Linked DNA regions of Homo sapiens: region 2 is linked to region 1. The links come from fine-mapping of genetic effects on gene expression. A gene starts in region 1. The other region holds a variant in brackets. All regions are shown on one strand. Distances are between the middles of the regions. Region 1 holds the start of DNASE1 (deoxyribonuclease 1). Region 2 holds the start of SLX4 (SLX4 structure-specific endonuclease subunit).

What was found.
Region 2: its variant is fine-mapped to the expression of DNASE1 in whole blood (TOPMed, PIP 0.90).

The regions. Positions count from the first base shown.
Region 1 is chr16:3,646,132-3,661,810 of GRCh38, forward strand. It overlaps DNASE1 (deoxyribonuclease 1), which reads left to right and starts at 8,560. Exons shown (of 9, transcript NM_005223.4): 1 at 8,560-8,913; 2 at 9,242-9,389; 3 at 9,718-9,806; 4 at 9,971-10,054; 5 at 10,507-10,622; 6 at 10,868-10,980; 7 at 11,056-11,210; 8 at 11,589-11,685; 9 at 11,775-11,964. The coding sequence starts at 9,243. The coding sequence ends at 11,822. It overlaps TRAP1 (TNF receptor associated protein 1), which reads right to left. Exons shown (of 18, transcript NM_016292.3): 17 at 12,662-12,734; 18 at 11,906-12,099. The coding sequence ends at 11,998. LOC124903631 (a long non-coding RNA gene) reads right to left here and starts at 11,636. Exons shown (of 2, transcript XR_007064954.1): 1 at 11,566-11,636; 2 at 4,505-11,391. RefSeq lists enhancers at 1-412, 8,737-9,264, 9,265-9,792.
Region 2 is chr16:3,605,705-3,621,383 of GRCh38, forward strand. It overlaps SLX4 (SLX4 structure-specific endonuclease subunit), which reads right to left and starts at 5,902. Exons shown (of 15, transcript NM_032444.4): 1 at 5,856-5,902; 2 at 2,726-3,862; 3 at 770-994. The coding sequence starts at 3,260. It also overlaps a transcript of DNASE1 not described here. RefSeq lists a silencer at 5,760-6,109 and an enhancer at 6,150-6,219. The variant G/A (reference allele first, on the strand shown) is at 6,339.

The sequences.
Region 1 (15,679 bases):
CTCAAGCCCAGTGCCCAGAGTGTCCAAGTGCCACCTGGATGCCCTGCAGTGTCCACTGTGCTGGGTTCTCAAGGTTTTTCTCTGGGGGGGGTCTGCGGGGAACCTGGAGCTGCTGGGTAGGAGGTGGGCTTGTGGCTCAGCTGTGTCCAGTGGCTGGCTGTGGAGCGCCTCCTCTGCTCCAGTAATATTTTCATGGGCAAGAAAGACCACTACTTTCTTGGCCACCGCTTCCTGGAGCTTGTGTTCCTGGAAGCCAGCCATAAATAAGCCGGCCATAAACGAGGGTAAACAGGTGCCTGAGTAAACACACCAGAGCAAATGAGTCATATGGGCCGGCAGAGATGAACCTGGGGCCATGGCGGGTGTAGGGGTTGGGTGGGGAGAGGATGTCCTCTGAAAAGGTGACATTTAAGCTGAAACTGGAATGACAAGAAGGCCCCAGCTCTGCAGGCAGAGCGGAAGGCTCAGAGCTTAGAATCACGTAGGTCATGGAAAGCATTGGATTTCGTGTTAGGGACAATGAGAAACTGGTGACAGATTTTAAGTAGGGGAATAAAGAGATCTAATTACACATTTGCGAGATGTTCTGAGAGCTGTGGGGACGGCTGGGACATGTACCTGGAAGCAGGGCAGCCAAAGGGAGAGGCAGTGATGACGGGTGGTATGGAGGCTGCAGAATCTGGAGGACGTGCAGGCTCAGGGTGCATGGTGCGGGCGGGGCTGAGGGGGAGCGGGGCCTAGGATGATCTCAGGTATTCTAGCACCTGGATGGTGGTGGCACTATAGACATGAGCAGGGAAGGCCAAGGAAATAATCTGGGGCCATTGTGGCTGCAGCAAGTTTATGATGCCTGATGCCCGATGCCCATCAGACCTGTCTGAGGGGAGATGTCCCAGCCACAGCTGAAGTGTGAGACAAAGCCCCTGCTTCAGAGGACAGCAGGGGAGTGTTTCCTAAGCAGGCGTGACCAGACGGTGTTTCTAAGATGGAAACCTGGGCATTTAATTTTTTGTGTGTGGTTTCATTTTTAACATTAACTAATGGTTACCTTATTTTTGGATGTTGGATCACATCTGGCAGTATTGCTTTAAAAGCTTTTGATTTGTAGAATTGTAAGAACTAATCATGGGATTTTTTTTTTTTTTTTTTTTCTTTTTGAGACAAGGTCTAGTAGCTCTGTCACCCAGGCTGGAGTGCAGTGGTGCAGTCATGGCCCATTACAGCTTTTACCTTCCAGGCTCACACAATCCTCCTACCTCAGCCTCCTGAGTAGCTGGGACTACAGATGTGTGCCTCCATGCCTGGCTAACTTTTTAATTTTTTGTAGAGACAGGTTCTTGCCATGTTACCTAGACTGGTTTTGAACTTCTAAGCTCTAGCAGTCCTCCCACTGTGGCCTGCCAAAGTGCTGGGATTACAGGCATGAGGCACCACACGCAGCCAGAAAATTTCAGCATATTCAAAACTAGTATTACACATCTTCGTGTACTCATTACCCAGCCTCAGGGCTGGCATTTTGAAGCAAATCCCAGGTACTGTACCACTTCATCTTTCAATATTTTATTAATAGTATGTGACTGTAAAATATAAGGCCAGGTGTTGTAGCTCACACCTGTAATCCCAGCACTTTGGGAAGCCAAGGCAGGAGAATCACTTGAACCCAGGAGTTGGAAAGCAGCCTGGGCAGCACAGTGAGATCCCCACCCCATCTCTACCAAAAAAGAACAATTTTTTTTTTTAAATTAGCCAGGTGTGGCTGGGTGCAGTGGCTCACACCTGTAATCCTAGCACTTTGGAAGGCTGAGGCGGGCGGATCACTTGAGGCCAGGAGTTTGGGACCAGCCTGGCCAACATGGCAAAACCCCGTCTTTACTGAAAATACAAAACTTAGCCAGGCATGGTGGCGCACATCCGTAATCCCATCTACTAGGGAGGCTGAGGGAGGAGAATTGCTCAAACTTGGGAGGCCGGAGGTTGCAGTGAGCCATGATGGCACCACTGTCCTCCAGCATGGGCAACAGAGCAAGAACCTGTCTCAAAAGAAAACAAAACCAGGTGTGATGGCACATGGCAGGAGGCTGAGGCAGGAGGATCCCTTCAGCTCAGGCTGCAGTGCACTACAATTGTGCCTGTGAAAAGCCACTGCAGTGGCCGGATGCGGTGGCTCACGCCTGTAATCCCAGCACTTTGGGAGGCTGAGATGGGCGGAACACAAGGTCAGGAGATCGAGACCATCCTGGCTAACATGGTGAAATCCCGTCTCTACTAAAAATACAAAAAATTAGCTGGGCGTGGTGGCGGGCGCCTGTAGTCCCAGCTACTCAGGAGGCTGAGGCAGGAGAATGGCATGAACCCCAGAGGTGAAGCTTGCAGAGAATGGTGTGAACCCCAGAGGCGAAGCTCGCGTGAACCCCAGAGGCAGGCTGCAGTGCAGAGCCAAGATCGCGCCACTGCACTCCAGCCTAGAAAGAAAAGCCACTGCACTCCAGCCTAGACAACGTAGTGAGACCCTGTTCCTAAAATAATTTCTTTAAAAACAAAACATAAGGACCAATAAGAGCCATTACAAACTTAAGAGTTTACTATTAATACTTCCCAGTTATGGGTCAGTGTTCTGCTTTCCCTGATTGCCTCTTACATAATTTGTTACACAAATGTCTGTTTGCATGAATAAAAGATTGGATGTTTTATAGGATCTAAGGTCCATACATTTTGTTTATGGATATATCTCAAGTTTTATTATCATTTAACATCCATCTCAAAATGTGAACTTTTTTTAACCTATGAGTTCTGCCTCTCTTCTTCTTTTCATTTTGAAATCTATTGATGAGCCTGTCCTTTGCCATCTACGATTTCCCAGTCTGGGTCGTACCGTGTCCCCATGGTGCTGTTGAACGTGAGCCTCTGTCCTTGTATTTGCTTTAAGTTGTCATTTAGATCTAGAGGTTTGATCAGATTCAAGATTGTTTTGGCAAGAACTCTCCTAAGTGCTGCTGTGTGTGGTCTTGGATTAGAAGGGACAGAGGCTGTCTTTTGTGATGTTAGCAGCCACTACATCAGGGCTGAGATTAGGGACGGCAAAATGGTGACTTTCAGGTCTAGCATTCCTTCCTCGTGTATTAGCTGGAGTCCACCTATCTAAAGAGAGCCTTCTCGAGCTATGGGTTACTGGGCAGTCCTTTTTGCATAGGAAAGGCAGAATACCGCCTTGATCCTTTGACTTTATTTGCCTTTTTGCAGAAGAACAAGTTGAGTTCCTAGCATCCCCCTAAGGTGGCTGATAATTATTTTATGTCAACATGAACTTATGTATTGAAACACAGTGATATGTTTAATCTGTTGCAATTATTCTTTTCAGTAGCAATTTGTAGAACTGAGAATTTCTTTGTGACAGAACGTTGAAGCAGTGGTGAATGATGAAGGATAGAAAAGAAGTTATATTCAGTAAAGTAGGAAATCTAACTCAGGCATATGCATTATGTCAGATCAGAAGCTTCACACTTTCTCAGTTGAGAGCACTCTTGATTAAGGTTCAATAATTATTTTAATAGTAAGCCAAAAGAAATCCCTGATAGTGGTGCCGGAGGAGACAGGTTGTGTTTTTATCTTGTGGCCTGGGTAGTGTCCTGGGACCCTCTGCCCCATCTGAGTCAAGTGTTGTGGGATAAAGGAATCTCTCAGGGCGAGGAGCTTCTTAAGTTAAATCGGTAGAAATTTAGGCATGACATGGGCCTTCAAATGTGTGAGGAGCTGTATCATTTTATTTCTCGGTGTGTTTTCCCCAACTTCTAGTTGATAAAAAAAAAATTCTTAAAGAGTTTTCGTATGTGGGAGCTAAGGTGGTCTTGTAAAATTTCAAGTCATCCTTAAATAAAATGACCCGCCTGAGAACTTGCTCCCGCTAAGTGGCGAAATCAACTGGAGTTGGTTCCTACAAGTTTTGTTTATTCTAGTTTTGTTTGTAAGTAGGTTGTGTGAGTTAATTCATGGATATTTACTATATGTCTTTTAAATTAGAAAACATTTGTTATTATGTATGTCCTTTTAGATTTTACCTGCAGCTCATACTTTGAAATCATCACCCAGTAGTGTCTTACTCTAGCATCGTCTAAATCTGAGCATCATCTGGTGGAATCTTAAATTTCAGTAGAAACCACGAGTTATTAATACATCTTCCACTCAAGTATCAATTTCAGAAGGAAACGTAAATGAATATTCTAAATAAGGCTAATTTGTATTAATCTGCCTTTATGTTTGAGGGAAAAAAAGCTGAGACATTGCATGAAAGATGATGCAGGATATACGCTGATCTTTTGGCCCCAATGAGCTATTTGAACATTGTCCTGTTTATTGTTAGTTTTCTTCATCATTTATTATATGGTCAATTTTTGAATTCCTGTAATATGAAACCTTATTCTATCTTTTAACTTACTGTTACCTAAAGTTAGTAAGTCCAGATTATATGGTCATTCAAAAAAAAAAAAAAAAAGAAAAGAAAAAGAAATCCCCCACAGTTCCATTTATTAAATAAGTAAACCCCAATAATAAGCATTTGTGTCCTGGCAACTTATAGTGGATGTCTAGAAAAGTAATACATAAAGAGAAATGTTCATGTTATTTGTTTAGTCATGGGATGTGTGTGCCTGTCGAGCACCTCTTCAACTTGGAATCTGGTAGAACACCGCCACCCTCATTGCCTCATTTTTCCACGTCGACCTTCACAGTAATTGCTTGTTCAGTGACTGCCACAACCCAGCCTGGCAGAGAGAGGGAAGATACCCTATAAAGCAAGGTAACGTTAATGTTGAGACCATGAATGGCCTTGAGCAGAGCAGAGTATCATTGCTTCCTTCAAAATTCAGAAGGATCTGATGGTGCTCTGTGAGTTCATGGGGGTGCCTCCGTGCAGGTTGGAAACCACAGCTGTGCGTCCTTCCCGCTTTCCCTCTTGATCAGTAGAAGGGTACCCTCCCTGGCCTGCACGTCGCTGGGTCACACAACACTGGCTGTCGTTGCACAAAGCCACGGCCACCAGCGTTCCTTTGAGGCCATTTGTTTCCAGCCATGGTGCCTATAGGATTTTTCCTTTATCCTGTAATTTCAGCCAAATCAGAGCATGTGACCTGGCTTAGATGTCAATATAATTGTTGTTATGTGCTCTTTTCCCTTCCTGTGTCTGTGACAGGTTTAATTTAACCTGAGAAGGCTGCAGATCCTCGGGGTTGGTGTAAAAACACCTCATCCTGATCTGAGAAGGCGGTCAGCTTTTCTCCTCGTTGCCGTTGGCTGCCAGCACCCATTCTCTGTGGATGTGAAAATCCCAGAAGGGCTGGGCTTCCTTCTTGGGCATTCCCCAGGCCTATCTCCAGAGTGGGGCCCAGCATGGGAGGATTGTACCCCACTCACTCCCCTGATGTGGGGCTTGGACCTACAGCTCGACAGCACCCATGGAATGTGGGCAGAAGCGACAGCAGCCAGCTCCGCCTTGGCCTTAGGGCGGCACGTGTTCTGCTTGTGCCCTGGGAGCCTCCACCTTCCACACTGTGGGAAGAGGGTGCCCAGGGAGCTGCAGTCTCTCCAGCCCAGCCCCAGGACGAGGCCCAGGCAGCAGAGCCACCCCAGCAGACCTGGCAGTGTGAGAGAAATGCATGTGTATACACTGAGTTTGCAGGTGGCTGTTACATGGCAGCATTGACTGACACAGACAGAAAAGAGATCCACGAGGGAGAAGTGAGAGTGCTGGAGACTCCACAAGCCACAGGCTGCAGGGGCAGGATGGCTTCTTAGAAGGTGAAATGATTGTTCTGGGAATCTATCAGAGGAAGACATAGAGGCTCCAGACGGTTGAAGGCCCAACAGTGATCCCAGACGGGCCCCATGTCAGACCAGGCTCCTCCAGGGCTGTGCTGCCCTCACCAAAGCCCGTCCTGAGGGCAGCCACACAGCAGGCAGCACTCGCCATTTGTACAAGCGAGGCCCAAGTTCCAGCCTTCCTTCTGGCAGGTAGAGGAAGCAGGGGCACTATGCCTGGGAGTTCCTGAAAGCAGATGGGGCAGCATTTGGTCAAGAGCCAGGAGGGGATGACAGACCAGAGGGGAACCCTCGTCCCACGTGCTGAGCACACGTAGGGGGTTGGGCACTTGCTCTGTGAGCTATAATTGGTGTCCCTGTGCCCCGCCGGAAGCTGCACCAGGCAGTTTCTTGGTGGAGGACAGTGGCCGCCCTCTAGCTTTACTCCCTTCCCCGTGATGGGTCGCTGTCAGATGTGTGTCCAGGAAAGGCAAACACCAAAGGCAGAGGACTAGTCCCTACACCGAATACTCCGGTGGCCTTGCTTGGGGGCTGGGTTTTGACGTGCTGGAGGCTGTCCTAGACTTAGAGATTAAAAACAGGGAAGAACCATTGCTGAAACCTTTGGAAAAGCCTGCAATGGGGCCTCTGGCAGCCTGAGGAGTGGTGGTGTTTCCATCTGGTAGACGCCGTCTCAATAGGAGGGACAGATGAGTGCACCAGTGCTGCCAGCCAGAGGCGTCTGTTGGCGTGTCTTTATGGAATGGGGTGCCAGTCTTGTGGAGGGTGGTTTACCTTCCTGTTTCTAGTCCCCACTGGGCCTGCCTTCTGCTTCATGGCCAGCTGGCCAGACCGAGCACTTTCCTGACTTTCGACCTTGGCCCCTGCTGACTCTTGCCGTTGAGGCCTCCTGCAGACCCCATTTGTATTCATTTCCTGCAGTTCTCATACCTGAATCCCGCCTGGACTTCTGCCAAGCCTTCCAGGCCCTCCTCCCCCAGGGGGACCACAGATGCTACGTGCAGGGCTGTCCTTGGAGGGCCAGCACAGCCCCTTCCAAGTGGGCAAGACCCAGGGGTGGCTCAAAAGATAGCTGTGCCCTAGCCCTGGAACCTCTGAATGTTGATTTTTGTAGCAAAAAAGGACTTGCAGATGTGAGTAAAGGCTGTTGAGATAAGGACATCCTCCCTGCTCTCTGGGAGGACCCCAAATGCAGGTGCACAGATCTTAAGAAGAAGAGGCAGAGACTGGGGTGATGCAGCCACAACTAAGGAAAGCCAAGGATTGCTGGCAGCCTGCAGAAACTGGAGGGCAAGGAGCATCCCCCAACCGCCCGGAGCCTCCAGGAGGCGCAAGGTCCTACTGACTCCCTGACTTCAGACGTCCAGTCTCCGGAATTTTGAGAGGATCCATTTCTGTTATTTTAAGCAACCAAACTTGTGGTAGTTTCACCAGTCTCAGGAAATGAATACGAATGGAAAGTCAAAGATTCCAAGAAATGAGTGGCGGGGTGCGGTGGCTCACACTTGTAATCCCAGCATTTGCGGGAAGATTGCTTGGGCTCAGGACTTGGAGACCTTGTGTCTGTGAGAAACTTAAAAAATAGGCTGGGTGCGATGGCTCACGCCTGTAATCCCAGCACTTTGGGAGGCCGAGGCAGGCGGATCACAAGGTCACGAGTTTGAGACCAGTGTGACCAACATGGTGAAACCCTGTCTCTACTAAAAATACAAAAATTAGCCGGGTGTGGTGGTGCGTGCCTGTAATCCCAGCTACTCGGGAGGCTGAGGCAGAAGAATTGCTTGAACCCAGGAAGCAGAGGTTGCAGTGAGCCGAGATAGTATTACTGCACTCCAGGCTGGGCAGCAGAGCAAGATTCCGCCTCAAAAAAAAAAAAAAAAAAAAAAAAAAAAAAAAAAACTGAGCATGGTAGCATGCACCTGTGGTCCTGGCTACGCCGGAGGATTGCCTGAAGCCAGGAGTTCAAGACCAGTCTGGACAAAAGAGCAAGACCCCATCTCTACCAAAAAAATTTAAAAATTAGCCAGGCATGGTGCCGTACCCATAGTCTTAGCTACTCAGGAGGCTGAGGAGGGAGGATTATCTGAGCCCTGGCGGTTGAGGCTATAATGAGCCATGATTGTGCCACTGCACTCCAGCCTTGGCAACACAGTGTGAGACCCTGTCTCAAAAACAATAAAAACCCAAAACAAAAGAACCAAGAAATTACTGGACCTGAGGCCTGGCCTTTAGCTGCTGCCCTGCCCTTGTGACCTGGTCACTCGGGATCCCCTGGGCCTAAACACACAGCCTATTGTCTACCTCAAGAAGGCTCCCCACTGCTTGGCTGGCAATTGGGGTGGGCTTTGCAGGCCCCACCTGTCCTGGCCCCACGGCGCTGGTGCTGCAGGCCCCCACCACTGCTTGTTCCGAGCTCCCCAGCCTCCTGCAGAGTTGCCTGCACCTGATGGCGATGAATCAGGAAGGCAGGCGTGTCCTGGGCCACAGAGCAGTCATGGCTGTCAGCCACCAGGGGGCTCCATTTGCAACTTTGGATGTGGCTTTGGCCTCTTTGTCCAAAGTGACCTTGGGGCCCCCAGACAAGAGACAGGGAGACTGGAGCCCAGCCCCACCCTCCCGCACATACCTGGCCCATCCCTGCCCTATCCTGGAAGATGGGGGCCACCACACGTGCAAGGGACACGGGATAGGAACCTTTGGCCTTGTTATCAGACATTTTAAAACTAAGTGCAAACGTGATTATCAGGTGCAGTTTTTACAGCAGCAAGAAACCTGTGCTTACAGAAAGAAACACGTGCTAGCAACCCACCTATGCGGAAAGCCACACAGAGCCATTGTTTTCTGCACTCTCAGGTGACGGCTCACATTTGCCCCAGGGAAGGTCACAGCTGCCTGAACTTTTAAAACTCCCAGACACGCACTGCCTGTGCAGGATCCGGAGCCCAGCAGCACTGCCAGGGCCTTGAAGTGCTTCTTCAGAGACCTTTCTTCATAGACTACTTTTTTTTCTTTAAGCAGCAAAAGGAGAAAATTGTCATCAAAGGATATTCCAGATTCTTGACAGCATTCTCGTCATCTCTGAGGACATCACCATCATCTCAGGTGAGCACCAGGTGGAGTGCCTCTGGGTGACTGGCCGGTTTGGAGCAGGGAGGGAGGCTTAGAGTCTCATCCTCCAGCAGCGAGTGAGGCGGAGGCTCCAGCGTCCCTCCCGGGCGGGTTTTCTGGTGGATGGAGGAGTGACTCGGGGTCCTCTACGTGGTGCCAGCTGTTTGGCTTTCTGGACGTTGTAGGAAAGGGTTTCCCCCGCCTGCGTCCCCCTGACCTTGAGCTCCACCAGCCCCTGCCAGCTGGGCTCCAGAAGGCTGGAGTGCTGTGGCAGGGATGACGTCTCACTTCTGTTATGTCTCTGTGCCCTGTGCTCTCCCAGGATGAGGGGCATGAAGCTGCTGGGGGCGCTGCTGGCACTGGCGGCCCTACTGCAGGGGGCCGTGTCCCTGAAGATCGCAGCCTTCAACATCCAGACATTTGGGGAGACCAAGATGTCCAATGCCACCCTCGTCAGCTACATTGTGCAGGTGAGGCCAGGGCAGCCTCCCCCCAAAAGCAGAGGAGCTCTGGAGTCTAGGGCTGGTGGGCAGGGCCAGCCCTATGGAGCCACAGGGTGTCGGGTGTGGGGTACTGAGCACCACTGCTCCCAGCACGGTGGAACAGGCTCTTGGCTGTGGACCAAGGTCCTCATCCCTGCTGTGCTGTCCCTGGCTGGCAGCAGGAGCCCAGGCAGAAACATGAGGCTGCGGTTAAACCGAGCAATGCCACGAGCATCAGCTGTGGCTCCCTTTGTGGCGCTGTAGGGTCCCTGGGTGGCACCAGCCCTGCTCAGCACCACTGTGGCCCTGCCCCCAGATCCTGAGCCGCTATGACATCGCCCTGGTCCAGGAGGTCAGAGACAGCCACCTGACTGCCGTGGGGAAGCTGCTGGACAACCTCAATCAGTGGGTGACAGTGGCAGGGTCATAGGAAGGTGACATCTCGTCCACGGCACAGCCTCACTTCACTTGGGCCCCAAGGGTGGGGACCTGGGCACAGCCTCGCTATCGGCAGCCAGAGGGGTCCCCTATGGCCCCCGCCACTGGGACCTTTTGTTTCTTCAATCCAGGGATGCACCAGACACCTATCACTACGTGGTCAGTGAGCCACTGGGACGGAACAGCTATAAGGAGCGCTACCTGTTCGTGTACAGGTGGGTGGTCTAGAAAGCCAGGAAGCCCCTCCCTCACCTGGGAGGGCCCCAACAGAGCAGGGAAGTAGTTTGTCCTATTAGTTTGTCCTATGGCAAGAACCTGAGGCTTCAGAGCAGGGTCCAGGGTGGAGTGAAAACACCCCAAGGTCCCGGACCAATGGGTTGAGCAGGTGCCTGGCTCCCCCGCCCTCCTGTCGCCTGGGTCCCGGACCAATGGGTTGAGCAGGTGCCTGGCTCCCCCGCCCTCCTGTCGCCTGGGTCCCGGACCAATGGGTTGAGCAGGTGCCTGGCTCCCCCGCCCTCCTGTCGCCTGGGTCCCGGACCAATGGGTTGAGCAGGTGCCTGGCTCCCCCGCCCTCCTGTCGCCTGGGACGCGACGCCTGCCTCCTGGGAAGCAGGAGTGGGGCAGCTTCCAGCCTGGGGTCACCTCCTCCTGCCCGGCCTTCCCGCAGGCCTGACCAGGTGTCTGCGGTGGACAGCTACTACTACGATGATGGCTGCGAGCCCTGCGGGAACGACACCTTCAACCGAGAGCCAGCCATTGTCAGGTTCTTCTCCCGGTTCACAGGTGGGTGCTGCCTGGGCCAGGGTGGGGCTCGGCTTGGCGCTTATGGCCTCCACCCCCTCCTAGGGAACCTGGAATGCCTGTGTCACACACTGCCCTCCCAGTCCCTGGGGCTTGGGTTTTCCATTCAAGTCATTTGGAAAATATCCACCCCCCGGGGGGACTGTCATGATACATAGTTCCAGCTGACATGGTGACTGAACCTGCCCCCAGGGAGTGTGCCTCACACGACGTGGCTGTCTCCACAGAGGTCAGGGAGTTTGCCATTGTTCCCCTGCATGCGGCCCCGGGGGACGCAGTAGCCGAGATCGACGCTCTCTATGACGTCTACCTGGATGTCCAAGAGAAATGGGGCTTGGAGGTGAGGCCCTCCCAGGGGCAGTGGGCACCAGCGGCCTCCGCATGTCCCAGGGCCACAGGCAGCGTTTCCTGGTAGGACGTCATGTTGATGGGCGACTTCAATGCGGGCTGCAGCTATGTGAGACCCTCCCAGTGGTCATCCATCCGCCTGTGGACAAGCCCCACCTTCCAGTGGCTGATCCCCGACAGCGCTGACACCACAGCTACACCCACGCACTGTGCCTATGACAGGTGAGCAGGGCCTCGCGCTTAGGGCAGACTGAGGGCACCTCCAAGGGCAGCCGTGACTCATAGGTCGGGCTTCAGAAGCCTCAAAGCCTTTGAACACTCACCCAACTGAGCTTCAGTTGATCCACTACAGGGAACAGAATAACAAGAGCCACGATTTTTAGGTTTTTTCGGAAAAGCACATCTGGGGATAAGAGGAGAGGCAGACACCTAGGCTGTCATGTGGTTTCCACATTGAGGGGCACAGACCAGGGTGTGCAGTTTTGGGCACCCACAGACCTGCACTGGCAGGTCCCAGGGCTCTTAGTTTAGTTCCTGCGGGTGCTGAGCCAGGCCCATGTGTGAAAGGGGAACCTACTTTCTCTTCCCAACACCCATCAGGATCGTGGTTGCAGGGATGCTGCTCCGAGGCGCCGTTGTTCCCGACTCGGCTCTTCCCTTTAACTTCCAGGCTGCCTATGGCCTGAGTGACCAACTGGTATGTGTCCTCCCTTGCACAGCCACATGAGGATGGGACACAGGAGCTCAGGTAGGCTCAGCCCAGACCCTGTGCCCACTTGCCTGCAGGCCCAAGCCATCAGTGACCACTATCCAGTGGAGGTGATGCTGAAGTGAGCAGCCCCTCCCCACACCAGTTGAACTGCAGGAAGAGAGGACCCATCCTGCCACAGGACCCAGAAAAAAAGCCCAACACACACTCGGGTTAAGAAATACCTTTAAATTTAGGTAAATAAAGCTCAAGGAGGTGGGGCTGTCATCTGTGGTGTCAGTCCTTCTGGCCCCCTGGCTGTCAGTGTCGCTCCAGGGCCTTGACAAGCAGCTCATTCAAGCGGCCCACCATGGCCCTAGGGTCGTCAACAAGTCCAGCAGCAATCATGGCGTTCTCGTATATCTGAAAGGCAAGAGGAGAAACCCATTATGAGGGGCATGGGGCACCTTTTCATTTTTTTTTTTTTGAGACAGAGTCTCACTGTTGCCGAGGCTGGAGTGCAGAGGCACGATCTCGGCTCACTGCAACCTCAGGTGATCCCCCCGCCTCCCAAAGTGCTGGGATTACAGGCGTGAGCCACCACGCCTGGCCATTTTTCCGTTTTTAAAACAGAATTTGGCTGGGCACGGTGGCTCACGAGGTCAGGAGATTGAGACCATCCTGGCCAAGATGGTGAAAACCCCATCTCTACTAAAATACAAAATTAGCCAGGCGCATGCCTGTAGTCCCAGCTACTCGGGAGGCTGAGGCAGGGGAATTGCTTGAACCCGGGAGGCAGAGGTTGTAGTGAGCCAAGATCGCGCCACTGCACTCCAGCCTGGCAACAGAGCAACACTCCATCTCAAAAAACAAACAAACAAACAAAAAGACAGGATTTTAGAGGAAACCGCTGTTCCACCCTGAAGGCAGGCTGGCAGGGCTGGTAGCCTGGGTCCCTGCAGTCATCCTAAGCTGCTGCACTCACCTGATCCACCAGCAGCTGAGCCAGGCCAGGCTCGCTTGCGCGCAGCTGATTCAGCTTCTTGATGAGCGCGTGCCTGCAACACAGAACCCACCAGAAAAAGCAGCTCAGTACCACGTGCTGTGACCCTCCCTTCATGTTTTGGGATTATCAGGATATTTAAAGAAGCACAGTAAGACTGTCTGTAGTTTTTTAAATAAGGTATGTTAATGATCATTTATAGATAATATCATTATATACCCAGAAAACCCAAGAGAATCAGGAGTGTCAGTATTAGAAAATGCTGTAAGGTAGCCAAACTCCAAGATTAATATACACTAAAGGGACAAAAGGAGCTTAGTACGTGAAGACATGCCTTGGTTCCTAGATAAATAATAAAAGAGAAGGGAGTAAGACCCACATGTTGAAACATATTATAGGGCTCTAGTAAATAAAACAGTTTAGGTCTGGAAAGGGGGAAGGCAAACAACTCCATGTAACGAGGGTGGACACTGAGTGTCTGATGAGGACAGTATTTCACAGAAGAGGGAGGAGACAGATCACTCCATCCAGCAGCACTGGGATGACTGGGAGCCATGCAGAAAACCATTTAGACCAGAGTAAATTCCAGAGGGATCAAAGATGACAAGCACAATTCTAGGGAAGAAATGTTTCATCATCTCAGAAGGGGAAAGCCTTTCCAAGCAAAACCACAAACCAAAAAGTAAAGAATGATTGACATATTTGACGTCAGAACAATATTTTTTTCTGCATAGGAAAAAGCATCATGTAGTATTTAACCTTAACATGAATATTATAATTTTTCACTTAGAAGTCTGATAAAACCGAGGGCTCTGGGGAACTGTAAATTTGTACAACCTCTCCAGAGGACAACTGGAGTCGGGAAAACCACATGTGGATGATATGCTGAGACTCAGCCATTCCATTTCCTAACTGCATCCCTTTAAACACTTTTTTTTTTAGATAGATAGATAGATAGATAGATAGATAGACTCTCACTCCTTCACCCAAGCTAGAGTGAAATGGCATGATCTTGGCTCACCGCAGCCTCCTGGTTTCAAGAGGTTCTCTTGCCTCAGCCTCCCAAGTAACTGGGATTACAGGCACCCACCACCACCCCCAGCTAGTTTTTGTATTTTTAGTAGAGATGAGGTCTCGAACTCCTGACCTCAAGTGATCCACCCGCCTAGGCCTCCCAAAATGTTGGGATTACAGGCGTGAGGCACCGCACCCAACCTAACAGAGGAAACACTTCAAATGCACATCCTCACATTTCTAGTCTACGTAGCTGGAAAAAAAGGACATTCTTAATATGCTAATGTGGAGGTCACCTAGTTACCCTAAGGGAGAAAAGCAAGGCAAGGACCCACTGCACAGCAAGTTCCCCCTTGGAAGCCCACGGGCGCAGCTGCCCACAAATGCACATAATCTCTGCAGAAATACAAAAGCCCTAATGCTGGCTGCACTGGGGACACAGGTAGGAGGAAATTTTCCCCTGTAAGCAGTTTTGAATTCTGAACTATGTGGACAGAACACCAAATTTTAAAACAAATGAAAGTGAAGCTGGCTGGGCACAGTGGCTCTCGCCTGTAATCCCACCACTTTGGGAGGCCAAGGCTGCAGTGAGCTCTGATGGCGCCACTGGTACACTCCAGCCTAGGTGACAGAGCAAGACCCTGTCTCCAAAAGTGAAGTGGCAACAGACAGAAACGAGCACTTCTGCAGCTATCTCACAAAACTAGTTTGCCACCAAAACTAGTTAAAGTGACCTGGTGTCCGCCTCACTGAGCTGCTCCAGCAGAGGCACAGGCATTCTGCATACTGGCGCTGCTGTGCACTGACAGCCATAAGCCAAGTCAGCCTTTCCCCAGGAGTGCCATGGCTAGGAAGATGCATCTCCCTCGCCTCCAGTATAATTTTAAAAGTTATGGTTGTAAAATGACAAAAGAAAAAAACTAGACATGTACTAAAGAACAAAACAAAAACTGGCTGGGGGTGGTAGCCCACACTTGTAATCCCAGCACTTCGGGAGGCTAAGGCAGGTGGATTGTTTGAGGCCAGGAGGTAGAAGTTGCAGTGAGCTGAGATTGCCCCACTGCACTCCAACCTGGGGGACAGAGTGAGACCCTGTCTCAAAAATTAAAATACTACTTAGGCTACATTGTGGGGGGGGTGGTAAGTCTATGGATTTTGATTTCCTTTTTGCTGTTTTCTATTTTTGGTAACATGTTTATGTAACTTCATTTTTTAAAAAATTGCTACATTCAAAATTTCCCCCAAAAAAGAAACTTCATATACAAGTTAGTTCATATACAAGTTAGAAAATGAAATTTTAAAATACCCCATAAGACACATCAAAGAATAATTCTTTAAAAATGGTACCAGAACCCTACAGAGAATGTAAGGTACCAAAGGATGTTAAAGACCTAAATAGATCACATTCATGGGTGCAAAGAAGTGATACTGTAAAAAGAAAGAAACTCAAAAGATACCTAAAGGCAGGTGAAAAGACATTTACAACAGATAAAGGGCATATAAAGAACAACAGGAAGAAACGAGGGAAATCTTACGGCTCAGCCACTGTCAGGGCTGGGGGGTTCTCGGTGCACCCTGGAAGCAGCTCCCACCACCGGGGCCACAGAGAAACCCACACAAGCCCCAGACACGTGGACAAGAATACTCAGAGCAGCCTGGCTCTCCACAACTTCTGACCAAGAACCACCGGAGGCCCAGCAGAGCAGAACGGAGCAGTCTGCTGTGCCGAGGTGGGTTTCTGCAGCGGACATTATTCGGCTATGAAAATGAACTTGTGGCAGCCCCTCTGCATGGGCAACCCTCATGCCAAGTGAGCAACGTGAGACTTCAGCAAACACCAAGATCCACGTACAAAGCTCAAAACAGGCAAAACTGAGCATGTCCAGGACACGCACAGGTGGCAAAGCCATAAAGCAAAACGAGGACATGGTCACAGGCTGGGATGTGGCTAACCTCCCAGGTGACACCTGGGGATGGTAAGGGGCT
Region 2 (15,679 bases), 40 kb before region 1:
TGGGAGGCCAAGGCGGGTGGATCACGAGGTCAGGAGATCGAGACCATCCTGGCTAACAAGGTGAAACCTTGTCTCTACTAAAAATACAAAAAATTAGCCAGGCGTGGTGGTGGGAGCCTGTAGTCCCAGCTACTCGGGAGGCTGAGGCAGGAGAATGGCGTGAACCTGGGAGGTGGAGCTTGCAGTGAGCTAATATCGTGCCACTGCACTCCAGCCTGGGTGACGGAGCGAGACTCCATCTCAAAAAAAAAAAAAAAAAAAAAAAAGGAAGAGGGCCAGGTGCAATGGTTCACGCCTGTAATCCCAGCACTTTGGGGAGCTGAGGTAGGCAGATCACTTGAGGTCAGGAGTTCGAGACCAGCCTGGCCAACTTGGCGAAACCCTGTCTCTACTAAAAATACAAAAATTGGCCAGGTGTGGTGGCACACGTCTGTAATCCCACTGGCTGGGGCAAGATAATTGCTTGAACCTGGGAGGCGGAGGTTGCAGTGAGCTGAGATCATGTCACTGCACTCCAGCCTGGGTGACAGAGCAAGGCTCTGTCTCAGAAAAAAAAACAAAACGGTACCTTATCAAGGAAGCTAGGTGGGAAATGATCCCAGAGACTCTTCATTCTCTGGCTGGATCCAGTGAAGTGGCAAAGGTAAAACATCAAGCAGAGAGCCTATCCACAGAAGAAACTCAACAAATGCTGATTCCTTCCCGCCTCCCTTCCTCAGAGTTGTATTAACTTATCTCTGTGTGGAAGACAGAAACACACTCATCATACCATTCCCCGCCATCATCTCCTCTTGAGGATCCTTTGGGACATTTTCTTCCCGCGCAGCCTCGAGGGAGCACTCTTCTGAAGCGTGTCTCAAACGCTCGGGGTCTGCTCTCTTGAACTGCTGCATTCGCTGTAGGACCAATTGTGCTGTGCGGGGTTTGGAGGGACTTGGCACTGCTGTTGTCAAACAGGAAGGAGGAGGCTGGGAGTCGCTGTTGGGCACATTCTCTGGCAAGGAGGAAAATATTCACAACCATCTGTTGTAGCTGGAGAAATAAAAGACTTTTCTACCAGATACAGGTTAGACGCAAGTTTCAAGAGTCCTTTATCAACTAGTTTAGGTTTGACTCACAAATGTGAAGAGGACTGGTTGCTTGTTGGTAACCTCTTTGTTTATGGCAATATAGACATAAATATCAATAACAGGAGGGGAATGGGATGTGACTGCTAATGAGCATGGGGTTTATTTTTAGGATGATAAAACTGTTCTAACGTTAGGTAGTGGTGGTGGTTGGACAAGTCTGTGAATATACTAAAAACCACTGAACCATACCCTTTTAAATGGTGAATTTTATGGAATATCAATTATACCCCAATAAAGCTATTATTAAAGAAATATTAATGACAAAGGTTTATGTCCTAGATCAGTTCTTCTTTAACTTGGGATCCACGGATGATCTTCAGTGGGGATCCATGAACCCCATGAAGTTGTGTGCCAGTTTTGCAGATACGCGCATGGATACGTGTTTTGGGGGAACCATGCATAGATTTCATCCGACTGGCAAAGAGCACGAGAGACCAGTAAAGTTGGTGAGGCAACACTGCTGATGCCTTCCAGTAGTCTATGCGACCTGAGACTCTACCACCACTCTACTGAGAGGTTATTAAGATCAGGAAGTGAGGGCAAAGGAAATTTAGAAACAGAACTCAGGAGCTCAGAGAGCCCATGGTGTATTATATATGCAAGGGTAGTTTTCAGTTTTGCATGAAGAATGTGTAGTAAGCATATAGCTCAGTATACCAAGGGCAGCAGGGCAAGAAAACTGCTTTAAACAGTTAAAAAATTATCCAGGCACGGTGGTGGGTGCCTGTGGTCCCAGCTACTCGGGAGGCTGAGGCAGGGAGGACTGCTTGAACCTGGGAGGTCAAGGCTGCAGTAAGCTATGATAGCACCACTGCACTCCAGCCTGGGTGAGAGACCAAGATCCTGTCTCTAAAAACTAAGTAAGTAAATAAATCAATAACAATAACAAAGGAAAAGATTAAAAGGTCTTCAGAGAGAGAAAGAAAGAACCTGAAGATTCTCCTGGGACTTGAGCCCACACAGAGTCCTCATGCGGCCCTCTCAGCAGCCTATCCAAATTGGCTGGCCCAGTCCAACTTACCCACTTTGGAATAAATTCAAGAAAACAAGAGAAGCAGCATTATTGTGTTGTTTGTGTAACTCATGTCAATCATATAACAGAATTTCATAGGAAATTCTGAAAGAGCAGAGGACTCCAAACACAATCATGTGAAAAATTCACACGGGTTATGTTTTTCTTGACTGTTGTTTAAACCAGGAGTCAGCCGGGCGCAGTGGCTTACGCCTGTAATCCCAGCACTCTGAGAGGCTGAGGCACGAGGATTGCTTGAGTCCAGGAGTTCAAGACCAGCCTGGGCAACATAGTGAGACCTCCAGCTCTAAATTTTTTTTTAAGCTTAAAAATTAAAAAATAAAAACAAACCAAAAGTTAGCAAACTACGGTCATGTGGCTGGCTGCCTGTTTTTGTAAATAAAGTTTTACTGGCATATGGCCATGCCTGTTCATTTACATATTGTCCACGCCTGCTTTCTCACTATGACAGCAGAGTTGAGTAGTTGTGACAGAGTCTGTGTGGCCTACAAAGCCAAAATATTTACGATCTGGCCCTTTCCAGGAAGTTTTCCAGCCCCTGGTTTAAAAGAGTACAAATTACCTCTGGTTTTCTCTCTGGAAAGGTTTGGCGATGGTTCTTGCTGGTTACCCGTCTGGGTGTTTTGTGCTGTTTCCCGGAGCACAGGTGGATCTGGAGCAGAGGCAAGCACACCCCCCTCCCCATTCACAGAGTGGGCCGGTTCACTTGCTTGCCATTTGGTTACCCTTTGCTTTTTAGTCCTAGGGGCCTGGCTGCCAGACGGAGGTTTCTTCTCTGCAGGGCCTTGAAGGGTTTTGGTCTTGGTAGCAGTTTGTTTGGTCCTTTTCAATTTGCTTCTTATCTGAGTGCCGTTTGAGGCAGCCTTTTGTGTCTTCCTTTCTCCTGACACTTCCTTGATTCCATGTTTTTTCACCCTTTGGAAAAAGCTAGCGCAGAGTTCTTTAAAGTCCTCATCAGACTCATCCATCATCTGACCAGTTTTAAGGCTTTCAGGCTGGTCTTCAGAGGAGCGAGGGTCAATCCCAGGACAGGCAGACAGATGAGAAAGTGAACCCAAGTAGAAGCCTAGCTGAGCCTCATTCACACTCAGTTTCATTAGGGTTCTTCTCTACTTCTCCATTAGATACTTGGAGAGTTTGCACAATTGAACAAAAAGTACTGTTTTCCTCTCTATAATGATTGAAGTATCTTTGTTCAAATTGGGCCTGTGGTTAAACATGTTTAAAGCTTCCCTCTGTTAAAGTCCACAACTGGGCCGGGCGCGGTGGCTCACACTTGTAATCCCAGCTCTTTTGGAGGACGAGGCGGGGGGTGGATCACCTGAGGTCAGAAGTTCGAGACCAGCCTGGCCAATATGGTGAAACCTCGTTTCAACTGAAAATACAAAAAATTGGCCAGGCGTGGTAGCAGATGCCTGTAATCCCAGCTACTCGGGAGGCAGAGGCAAGAGAATCGCTTGAACCTGGGAGGCGGAGATTGCAGTGAGCCGAGATCGTGCCACTGCACTCTAACCTGGGCAACAAGAGCAAAACTCTGTCTCAAAAAATAATAATAATAAATAAATAAAGTTCACAACTGAAAGAGTGTTTTGTTGTCCAATAGATGCCTCTGAGATCGAATACATATGAACCTGGTGCTCAGATAATTCTCCAAGATCTCCATGATGATGAAACATATATGGTTCACTTAATTACACATCTGTGGAAAACCAAAAGCATGTAAGTGTAATCAGACATTGTCATTTTATGCCAGTTCTTCCAGGGAGGGACAAGGGCATGTGGGGTGAGGGAAAAGTCTTCGGAGTAACAATACTGTCAAATACTCAGTCCAGCCTGGTTAACATGGTCTAACCGTCCTATCAGACATCACAACAAAAGGACCTAGAAACCTGTCAAAGCATGTTGTTCTTCCACAGGTATTAAAATATGTGCATCTTGGGAGAGTGTTTTCTTAACTGAAATTTAGGGAGCAAACCCCATAAAAGGCAGTCACCACAGAAACAGGATGATCCCCAAATCTAGGAAAACTATCTCCTACACTGATCTAAGACCCCTGGCTGTTAAAGAGGCTCTTTCTGTAAATACTGCAACATAAGAGACAGAAAGAGACATTATATTCTCATGAACACTCAGGAGAGAAAAGGTCACTTTTACTTATCTTCTCAACCCAGCAAGGCTCTCCAAACCTGGATGACTGGAATGTCGCCTGTGTGCAAAGGCTGGGCCTCGTGAGCATGGTTGTTTACTTTGGCACACAGCTAAGTGGGGTTCAAAAATCAAAACTGAATGACCCAATGGCAGAAAGTTATTCCTTTCAAATACAATAATGCAATCTCCACTGTCCAAGGAATCTAATTAATCATTTTGTTTTCCAGAGCTGAAAATACTCCTACCTAGAATCTACTTTGTATGGCTGGCGCATTCTCTTCTGTGTCTTCCCCTTAGAGAAGTGTCCTCTAATCCTTTATGGACCGTCTCCATCCCCGTTAATCCCTATCATCGCCCACTGTTTTCACAATGGCATCTGTCATAGGTTATCATCATATGAAACAGGTAATATCTATCGAATGCTTACTGTGTGCCAAGCACTGTTCCAATTGCTTTCCAAGTCAAACTCGTTTAATCCTTACAAGAAGCCTATATGGTGGAATCTCTTGTCATCCTGTCTTTACGGCAAGGAAACACGCGCAAGCAGAATGAGGAACTGGCCTAAAGCCAGTTCAGGAACAGCTTTCACAGTGGCAGGGCTGGGATCAAACCCAGGAAGTGTGGTTCGAAACTATCCGCTCTTGTGTTTTTATTCATCGGCTTATTATCTGTCCCCCATTAAGCTCAACACTTCAGGAGGGTAGAGATCCATCTATTACTTTGCAACCTCTTTGGCTGATCTGGTGCCTGACTTGAAATAAGTGCTCCACAACTACTTGTTGAATTCATGAATTGCAAAGAGTTCGGTATAATGGGAGTAGAGAGAAAGGTGTAGGAGAAAACGCTGCGGGGAGAGGAAAGGATTGGCTCACAAGGGCCTGGAAGGTCAGGCTAGGCAAAGTGAATTTTATCCTGTTGGATGCGGGGAGCGGCTGGAACAAATTCCACCTCCACAACTGTGTTGATCTCCGCATCTCTGTTGATATGAACCTCACAACAGTCTATCTCCTCCTATAGGTGCCCAGTCAAGATTTACTGAATGACATAACGGATCCTGCAAGCCTGCAGGTTTCCAGAGGGAAGGGGACTTGTGCCTCCTTGCTTCGTACCTACCGCAGCCCACGGCTCACAGCAGGCGAGGGATGAATGAATGGATCGGTAAGGGGCGGACCCTCCCGCTTCCCCCAACCCGGCGACCTACGGAAAGGGGCTGAGGGGTTCCCCGTCTGGGAAAAGGGCTGCCAAAGACTCTAACGGCTCTAAAGTCAGACGGAGAACCCCGATCCCCGGACTGGCCCGGACGGAGACCACCGTGGGGATCCGGATCCGCCACCCTCCTCCCTCCAGGCGGGCCCCGGCCCCTCTCCACCCGAGTGCGGCTCCTGCCTCTCCGTCGGGGCTGCGGGCCTGCCGAGGCCACGGAGCCAGCGAGGGAGACGGGCGAGAAAGGCTCTTCTCCCTTAGGAAAGAGAGAACGGCCCGAAATGACAGGACCTCCGCCTCCCGGGTGCCGACTCCCAGCCCCACAGCCCGGCTCCTCCTACCTCCGGCGCCGCCGCGGCACCTTCTTAACGGAGACTCGCGCGCCTGCGCATGCGCCGCCCGCGCCCCCGCGGAGCATTGCCTGCGCGCAGGCGCAGAGCGGGCGCGCGCGGTGGTGCGGCAGCCTCGCTTCCGGTCTTCCTCTGCGGCGCCGGGCGCGGGCCCGCGGCGGCCAGCGCTTCCGGTCGGCAGGAGGCGGGGCGAGGCGGAAGCGGCGCTTGCTTCAGGTGGAGTCTGTTAGTTTTTGAGAAAGAGTTAGGGCGAGTTTAAGGCACTGTGGCAGCTGTGAGATAAAGTCTGGTTCCTCCCCAGCTGGCTCAGGAAATGTTCGCGGATACAACGGCGGCCCCCTCTGGGCATACCTGCCTGTGGAGCGGAGAGTGGACGGTGTGAGGGGGACCGGGAGAGGCACCAAATCTGGCCTGGGGGCCCGAGAAGCTTCCTCTCAGGTGGGGTGGCGTGAGAGTCGAGGCCTGGAGGTCGGG[G/A]AGGGTTAGCTACGTGAAGAGGGGATTCTGCCGCGCTTCAGGTGCCTGGAGGGGATGCCCGAGCTCTTCCGCAGGGCTAGGGTGAAGCCAGCCAGGGCCTGGGGGAAAGGTAGCAGAGGTTTGCCATGGCTTGGTATTTGAGGGACTTTACACATCGTATTAAGGGTTTGAGCTTCAACTTGGGGTCGTCGGGAGCCATTGAAGGTTTTTTGTTGTTTGTTTTTTGAGACGGGGTTTTGCTCTTGTTGCCCAGGCTGGGGTGCAGTGGCGCGATCTCGGCTCACTGCAACCTCTGTCTCCCGGGTTCGAGCGGTTCTTGTGCCTCACCTTCCCAAGTAGCTGGGATTACAGGCGCCAGTCACCACGCCCAGCTAATTTTTGTGTTTTTAGTAGAGACTAGGTTTCACTCTGTTGCCCAGGCTGGTCTCCAACTCCTGACCTCAGGTGATCCGCCCGCCTCGGCCTCCCAAAGTGGTGGGATTACAGGCGTGAGCCACCGCTCACGGCTTTTTTTTTTTTTTTTTTTAAGTAGAGACGGGCGGTGGGGGCGGGGGGGGGAGTCTCACTATGTTGCCCAGGCTGGTCTCGAGCCCTGGCCGCAAGAGATCCTCCCGCCTCGGCCTCCCAAAGCGCTGAGATTACAGGCGTGAGCCACCACGCCCGGCGTAAGATTTTGTTTTTAAAGGCCTAATTACAGTGAGAACAGATGAGGCAAGGACACCCATTAGGAGGCTATTACATAATCTAGATGAAAAGTGAGAGCGGCCCGAATTAGGAGGTGGAGCGAAAAGAATGGAGAAATATGGAGCATAGTCAAGACGCAGTTGTTAACGATTTGCCGGTTTCTGGCCTTAACATCTGAGAGTAGTGTGCCTCCAGTCACTGAAATAATGAACACAGGAGAGGTGTAAAGGAATCAGTTTGCAGGGCAGACAATATGTTTTTTAAAAGATACAGTATCATAAAATGCACACTAGAAGTGTACATTCAGTGGTTTCCAGTACGTTCACAGGATTTGCAGCCATCGTCGCTAATTCCAGAACGTTTTAAAACCCCAAATCGAACCTGCCGTACCCATTCGTAGTCACTCCGCAATTCCCCCGACCCCATCCCCTGGCAATCACTTATCGGCTTTCTGTCTCTGTGGTTTTGCGTATTCAGTACATTTTATGTAAATGGGATCATGTGATACTTGGCTTTTTCTGCTGGGCTTTTATTAAGCATGTTTTCAAGATTTCATCCATGTAGATGAATCAGTACTGCATGCCTTTTCATGGCTGCATAATCACGTGTTTGGATGGACCATGTTTTGTTTATCCATGTATCAGGTGATGGGCATATGGATGTTTTTACTTTTTGGCTGTTAGAAATAATGCTGCTATGAACATTCGTGTTCATAACACAAGTTTTTGTGTTCTAGGAGTGGAATTACTGGGTAAGACTACATTTGATTCTGAATGTTGAGCTTCAAAACCTTCCAAGAGGTTTTCCTTGATGAAGGATTTAGGAGGTGTTTACTTGCTCTCTGGCTTGGAAATCTAAGTTAGTTTGTAATATGGTTTCCAACTGGATAAAGAAGACAGAACAAGAATGATAAGCAGCCCAGAGGCAAGGGTAGGGCAGGGTGTCTTGGGACTTGAATTTATAGAGGAGACTGAGTGACGACATGGAGAGGCCAGTGCTGTTGAAATAATTTCTCTTTCCTTCCTTCCCTTCCTTGCTTCGTTTTCGACGGAGTTTGGCTCTTGTTGCCCAGGCTGGAGCGCAGTGGTGTGTGCAACCTCCACTTCCCTGGTTCAAGCGATTCTCCTGCCTCAGCCTCCGGAGTAGCTGGGATTACAGGCGCCCGCAACCGCGCCTGGCTAATTTTTTTTTTTTTTTTTTTTTTTGGACAAAATCTCGCTCTGTTGCCCAGGCTGGAATGCAGTGGTGTGATCTCGGCTCACTGCAAGCTCTGCTTCCCGGGTTCACGCCATTCTCCTGCCGCAGTCTCCCGAATACCTGGGACTACAGGCGCCCGCCACCACACCTGGCTAATTTTTTGTATTTTTAGTAGAGACGGGGTTTCACCATATTAGCCAGGATGGTCTCGATTTCCTGACCTCGTGATCTGCCCGCCTTGGCCTCCCAGAGTGCTGGGATTACAGGTGTGAGCCACCGCGCCCGGCGTAATTTTTTGTATTTCTAGTAGAGACGGGGTTTCACCATGTTGGCCAGGCTGGTCTCAAACTCCTGACATCAGGCGGGCGATCTTCCTGCCTGGACCTCCCAAAGGGCTGGGATTACTGGTGTGAGCCACCGCGCCTGGCCTGAAATAATTTACTTACATTTCTCAAGAAAAGGAGGCGTGCCACCACGTTCAGAGCCACAAGGGAGACATCAGCTTTTGGTTAGGAGGAAGAAATAGGAACAAGGAGAAAGTCTAGGCCAGAACCTTTATGGGGTTCCTCAGAAATAGCAAGTCAGGGCGGAGTAAACATTTTAGGATTGGATAATTTAAATAATTCCATCACGCTTTGCCTTTGGGTGGTCTCTAGTTGCTTGGTACCTGGCCATGGATGATTTAGGGCAGGAGAAATACTGGCTTGGTGTGTGAGAGTTAGATAAAGGGGGGAGGCTGACTTGCCTGTGAGAGGCATGCTCCCAAGTAAGTTGTTTACTGTCTTGAGGAATTAGACCTGGGAGAGGCAGTCTCCCTGCCAGCAAGATTTATTAAGATTTCAAAATATCATAGGATACAGAAAATTTTTTTAAACATCTAATAAACATGGACATGGCTGGGTTATGAAGGATAATTGTAATGGTAGAAATTACTGTTTTCCAGTCAGACTGAAAATGAAGTGCCTGTTTCCTATTTAGGATTTAAATCTCTTAGAGTCCTGGTGAAGAAAGTCTTTGCTACCTCTCTCCCCCAACCCCAAATCTGGCTATATTATTTATTTACATAAAATAAATTAGTTGAAGTGTGGTTTAGAAAAGAGAGTTTTCTTAAACCTGAGATTCTCAACTGAATCACCTGTGGAATTTTTTTTTTTTAATTGGAAAGGCTGGGACACTACTCTTAGGCCTACTGAATAAATCTTTCAACCTGTGTCTTTTGAAAGTTTCACAGATGATTCTGATGGTCTCAAGATTGAGAAGCACTGCATTTAACCAGCACCAACTGAACAAACACTGTAGGCTAAGTATAAGAGAGATGGCAAGAGCTGGGTCAGGGTGGTGCATGGGATTTCCAATTATACATAATTCCTCCCTTCAATGAACAAAGCCATCCATAACTGGGGCACCTGCTTCTTTGGGCTAAAGGTGAACAATGGCAGCCACCTTGTCCTGGACCCTATTGTGACTGTTACTCCAGCAGAAGCCCTGGGGTTCATGCTGTTAGTTAGAAGTCACCCAGTATGACTAAGTTGAGGGGCAGTGTTCAGAAACAGTGTTACTAGATGGATGTTATTTCAGTAGGAACAGTATTGTGTGTTCCCTGTCAGCATTTGAGGCGGAAACCCACTGCACTGTCAGAACAACCAGGGAGATGAAAGAAGATGTCAGATACTAAAAGGTGCAGACAGTCCTTGTGTTTGGTAAACCTTACAGGGTTTATCTGAAAGAGAAAATGGATGCAGAAGTACATGAAAAAACTGTGTTATTCCAAATAGATGTGCTGTTTTCCCAGTTCATAGGAGTCGGTAATTTTTGGGTTCAGGGCAAAAAGGCAAAGGTTGAAGATGCTGTGATGATCACGTCCTTACCCTCCTGGAATATTTCCTTTTTGAAAGCTTCTGGCATCTTCCACTGAGTTCATGTTTTAAACAGTTGGGAGGATGAATTGAAGGGCCCTTATCCCAGGTCTGTGGTTTGATTATAAATGGTAAAGCCATAACCTGTCCACCTCCCTCTCCTTTATCTTGACAGGGGTTGGGGAGACAGCAGATTGAACAAGGAAAGAATTGTCTCCTGAGTTCTTTGATCATGTTAACTTTTATTTACTGTTGTATAGTCACATTTTCTAGACTGCTAAAATTGGTGAAATCAGGACAGGAAATAACTGTTTTTACGTGTATAAGTATACAAAAGTTATTCGAGATGAGTTACACTGCATTTCTTTCAGTGTGCTGCCTGCCACTGCTGCCTTTGTGTGATTTTGCTCTATATGTTCTGCTAGACAAATTTAAGGGAGGTTTCAGACAGCAAAACTCCCCCCAAAGCATCTACCAGCATAATCCCTATCAAAATCCCAACAACGTTTTAATTTTTTTGCAGAAGTGGAAAAACCGATGTTAAAATTCATATGGAATTGGCCGGGTGCGGTGGCTCACGCCTGTAATCCCGGCATTTTGGGAGTCTGAGTCAGGCAGATCACTTGAGGTCAGGAGTTCGAGACCAGCCTGACCAACATGGTGAAACCCCATGTCTACTAAAAATATAAAAATTAGCCGGATGTGGTGGCAGGTACCTGTAATCCCAGCTACTTGGAAGGCTGAGGCGGGAGAATCCCTTGAACCCAGGAGATGGAGGTTGCAGTGATCCAAGATCACAACACTGCACTCCAGCCTGGGTGATACAGTGAGACTGTGTCTCAAATAAATAAATTAAATAAATAAATAAATAAATTCATATGTAATTGCAAGGGGCTCTTAATACCCAAAACCCAAATAGCCACTTTGTTCTTTTTCAAGAACGTACTTCCTTATATCAAAACTTATTACAAGCTATAGTAATCAAGACTGTGTGGTACTGTACCAGCATAAGGATAGACATATGGGTCAGTGGAAGAGAATTGAGAGTCTAGAAATAAACCCTTATATTTATGAGCAATTGATTTTGTCCGGGATGCCAAGACTAGTCAATGGTGAAAGAGTAGTGTCTTCCACAAATGGAGCTGGGATAACAGGATATCACATGCAAAAGAATGAAGTTAGACCCTTACCTCATATCATGTACAAATATTAACTCAGAATGGATCAAAGACCCAATGGAAGAGTGAAAACTATAAAACTCTTAGAAGAATACAAGGGTAGGCTGGGCGTGGTGGCTCACCCCTGTAATCCCAGCACTTTTGGCATCACCAGAGGTCAGGAGTTTGAGACCAGCCTGACCAACGTGGAGAAACCCCGTCTGTACTAAAAATACAAAATTAGCAGGGCGTGGTGGTGTGCGCCCGTAATCCCAGCTACTCGGGAGGCTGAGGCAGGAGAATCGCTTGAACCCGGGAGATGGAGGTTGCGGTGAGCCGAGATCGCACCACTACGCTCCAGCCTAGTCAACAAGAGCGAAACTCCATCTCAAAAAAAAAAAAAAAAAAAAAAAAAAAGAATACTACAAGGGTAAATCTTTATGACCTTGGAGTTGGCAGTAGACTCTAGATATGACACTAAAAGCAGAAACAACAAAAAATAATGAATTGGATTTAATCAAAATTAAAAACTTTTTTGTGTAAAAGTATACTATCAAGAAAATGAGAAGACAACCCACAGAATGGGAGATATTTGTTAATCATATACCTGATAAGAATCTATGCTGCTGTCTAAATGTTTATGTCTCCCCCCACCCAATTCATATGTGAAGGCCTCAACCGCAAGGTGATGGGATTAGTGCATAAGGATAAGGATGGAGGCCCTTGTGGCCATGTGTGGTGGCTCATGCCGGTAATCCCAGCACTTTGGAAGGCGGAGGCGGGAGGATTGCTTGGGCCCAGGAGTTTGAGACCAGCCTGGGCAGCAAGGTGAGACTCCATTTTTACAAAAATTTTTTTAAAAAAAGAAAAGAGGCCCAAGAGAGAAACCCCCTACCCTTTCTGCCATTAGAGGAAGTGGGCCTTCACCAGACAGAGTCTGCCAACACCTTGATCTTGGACTTCCCAGCCTCCAGAACAGTGAGAATTTCTGTTGTTTATTAGCTACCCAGTCTGTGGTATTTTGTAAGAGCAGCCCAAATGGACTAAGACATTCTAGTAGCACAATATAGAAAGAACTTTTACAACTCAATGAAAAGACAACTCAGAAAATGGGCATGGTAGAACTTGTCCTGTGAAGAAGCCAAGACCAAAAAAAAAAAAAAAAAATGGACATAGGACTTGAATAGACATTCCAAAGAGTGGCAGGTGCCAACAAGCACATGAAAAGATGATCAGCATCATGAATCGTTAGAGAAGTGCAAATTGAAACTGCAGTGAGATACCACTTCATGGCCAGTAGGACAGCCATTTCCTAAAAAAAAAAAAAAAAAAGTATTGGTGAGGATGTAAGGAAGTTAGAACTCTGATACATTGCTGGAGGGAATGTAAAATGGTACAGCTGCTGTGGGAAACAGTTTGAGGTTCCTGAACAAGTTAAAGATAAAATCATCATATGATTCAGCAATTCCGCTTCTAAGGATATGTCCCAAAAAATTGAAAAAGTGTTTAAGGGCCAGGCGCGGTGGCTCACGCCCGTAATCCCAGCACTTTGGGAGGCCAAGGCGGGCGGATTACCTCTGGTCAGGAGTTTGAGACCAGCTTGGCCAATATGGTGAAACCCCGTCTCTACTAAAACTATAAAAATTAGCCGGGCTTGGTGGTGGGTGCCTGAATCCCAACTACTCGGGAGGCTGAGGCAGGAGAATCACTTGAACCTGGGAGGCAGAGTTTATGGTGAGCTGAGATGGTGCCATTGCACTCCAGCCTGGGCAACAAGAATGAAACTCCGTCAAAAAGAAGAAATGCTCAAACAAAAACGTGTACACCTCATATTCAGTCTAAATGCCCTTCAGTGCATGAATGAACAAAATGTAGTATAGAATGGAATACATGTTACACTGAACATTTGCTTATTTCCGTTTTGTAATTTTTTTTTAGTGACAAGGTCTCATTTCTGTTGCCCAGGCTCGAGTACAGTGGCACAATCATGACTCATGGCAGCCTCAGACTGCCAGGGATCAAGTGATCTTTCTGATCTTCCCAACTTCCTTATCTTCCTGACTCAGCCTACCTGTAGCTAGAGCTAGAAGGGCCCCTGGGTAATTTTTTTTTTTTTGAGACGGGGTTACACTCTATCATCCAGAATGGAGTGCAGTGGGGCAATCTCAGCTCACTGCAACCTCCACATCCCAGGCTCAAGTGATCCTCCTGCCTCAGCCTCCCTAGTAGCTGGGACTGCAGGCATGTAAAACCACACCTGGCTAATTTTTTGTATTTTTAGTAGAGAAAGGGTTTTGCCATGTTGCCCAGGCTGATCTCAAACTCCTGCGCTCAAGTGATCTGCCCACCTTGGCCTCCCAAAGTGCTGGGATTACAGGCATGAGCCACAATGCCTGGCCTGTGGGTAATTTTCTTTCTTTCTTTTATTTTTTATTTTTTTTTGGAGACAGAGTCTCGCTCTGTCGCCCAGGCCGAAGTGCAGTGGTGTGATCTCAGCTTACTGCAAGCTCTGCCTCCCAGTTGCATGCCATTCTCCTGCCTCAGCCTCCCGAGTAGCTGGGGCTACAGGCTCCCGCCACCACGCCTAGCTCCATTTTTGTATTTTTAGTAGAGACAGGGTTTCACCGTGTTAGCCAGGATGGTCTCTATCTGCGGACCTTGTGATCTGCCCACCTCGGCCTCCCAAAGTGCTGGGATTACAGGCATGAGCCACTGTGCCTGGCCGCCTGTAGGTAATTAAAAAAAAAATTTTTTTTGTAGACACAGGTCTTGCTATGTTGCCCAGGATGATCTCAAATTCCTGGGCTCAAGTGGTTCTCCTGCCTTGGCCTCCCAAAGTGCTGGGATTATAGGTGTGAGCCACCACGCCTGGCCCTCAGTATTTTTAAAAATTCTAATTTCCATTTACAGCTCTACTAAATATTTCATCGAGTCAGCAGATTGGTTATAAATATAACGAAAATTCATATGTATGGCTTTTCTTTTTTTTTTTTTTTTGAGACAGAGTCTTGCTCTGTCACCTAGGCTGGAGTGCAGTGGCATAATCTCGCCTCACTGCAACCCCCGCCTCCGGGGTTCAAGTGATTCTCTTGCCTCAGCCTCCTGAGTAGCTGGGACTACGGGCATGCGCCATCACGCCTGGCCAATTTTTGTATTTTTAGTAGAGATGAGGTTTCACCATGTTGGCCAGGCTGGTGTTGAACTCCTGACCTCAAGTGATCCACCCGCATCGGCTTCCCAAAGCGCTGGGATTACAGGCATGAGCCACCTCGCCAGGCCTGTGTATGGCTTTTCTTTTAAAAAGTTTACATGTCATATTTACCACATTACATTCATTGAGTCACATCATTCATCACATCATTTAGTCACGTGACTGGGTAACAAGCATTTCAGAGATCAAAAGGCTTCGTATAATTAGTAAAGAAACCTTTTATTTATTTATTTAGAGACAGAGTACTCAGTGTGTCACCCAGGCTGGAGTGCAGCGTGGCCTGATCATAGCTCACTGTAACTTCGAGGCTGCAGTGAGCTGTGATCATGCCACTCTACTTTAGCCTGGGTGACAGAGTGAGACCCTGTCTCAAAAAAAAAAAAAAAGTAATTATACTATGCATATTGCATCATGAGCATTTCTCTAAGTCAGTAGATAGGAAGCCATATTATATTCCATATTTAATCAAACATTCCCCTGTTGATAAAGATATATTTATAGTTTTTATCATTATAGATTATGCAATAAATGTCTTTGTACTTATAACCTGTATGTGTGTGTTTTTATTTCTTTTGGAAGGAGTCCTAAATCTAGGATTTCTAGGCTAAAGGGTATGTGTGTTTTGTTTGGTTTGCCTGATTTTTTTTTTTAAAAAGTTTATTATTTATTTTGAGACAGAGTCTTACTCTGTCACCCAGGCTGGAGTGCAGTGGCGCAATGCCGGCTCACTGCAACCTCCGCTCCCCAGGTTCAAGCGATTCTCCTGCCTCAGCCTCCGGAGTAGCTGGGATTACAGGCGCCTGCACCACACCTGGTTAATTTTTGTATTTTTAGTAGAGACGGGGTTTCACCATATTGACCAGGCTGATCTTGAACTCCTGACCTCGTGATCCACCCGCCTCAGCCTCCCAAAGTGCTGGGATTACAGGTGTGAGCCACTGTGCCCGGCCTATTTTATATTTTTTTTAGAGACAGGGTTTTGCTGTCATCCATGCTAGAATGCAGTGGCACGAGCATAGACTCGAACTCTTGGGCTCAGACAATCCTCCTGCCTCAGTATCCCGAGTAGCCAAGAGTACAAGCGTGTGCCACCACACCCAACTGACTTTTAAAAATTTTTGTAGATATGGGGTCTTGCTATCTTGCCCAGGCTGATCTTAAACTCTTAGCCTCTGGTGATCCTCCTGCCTCCAAAAGTGCTGGGTTTACAGGTATGAGCCATTGCTCTTGCCTGGT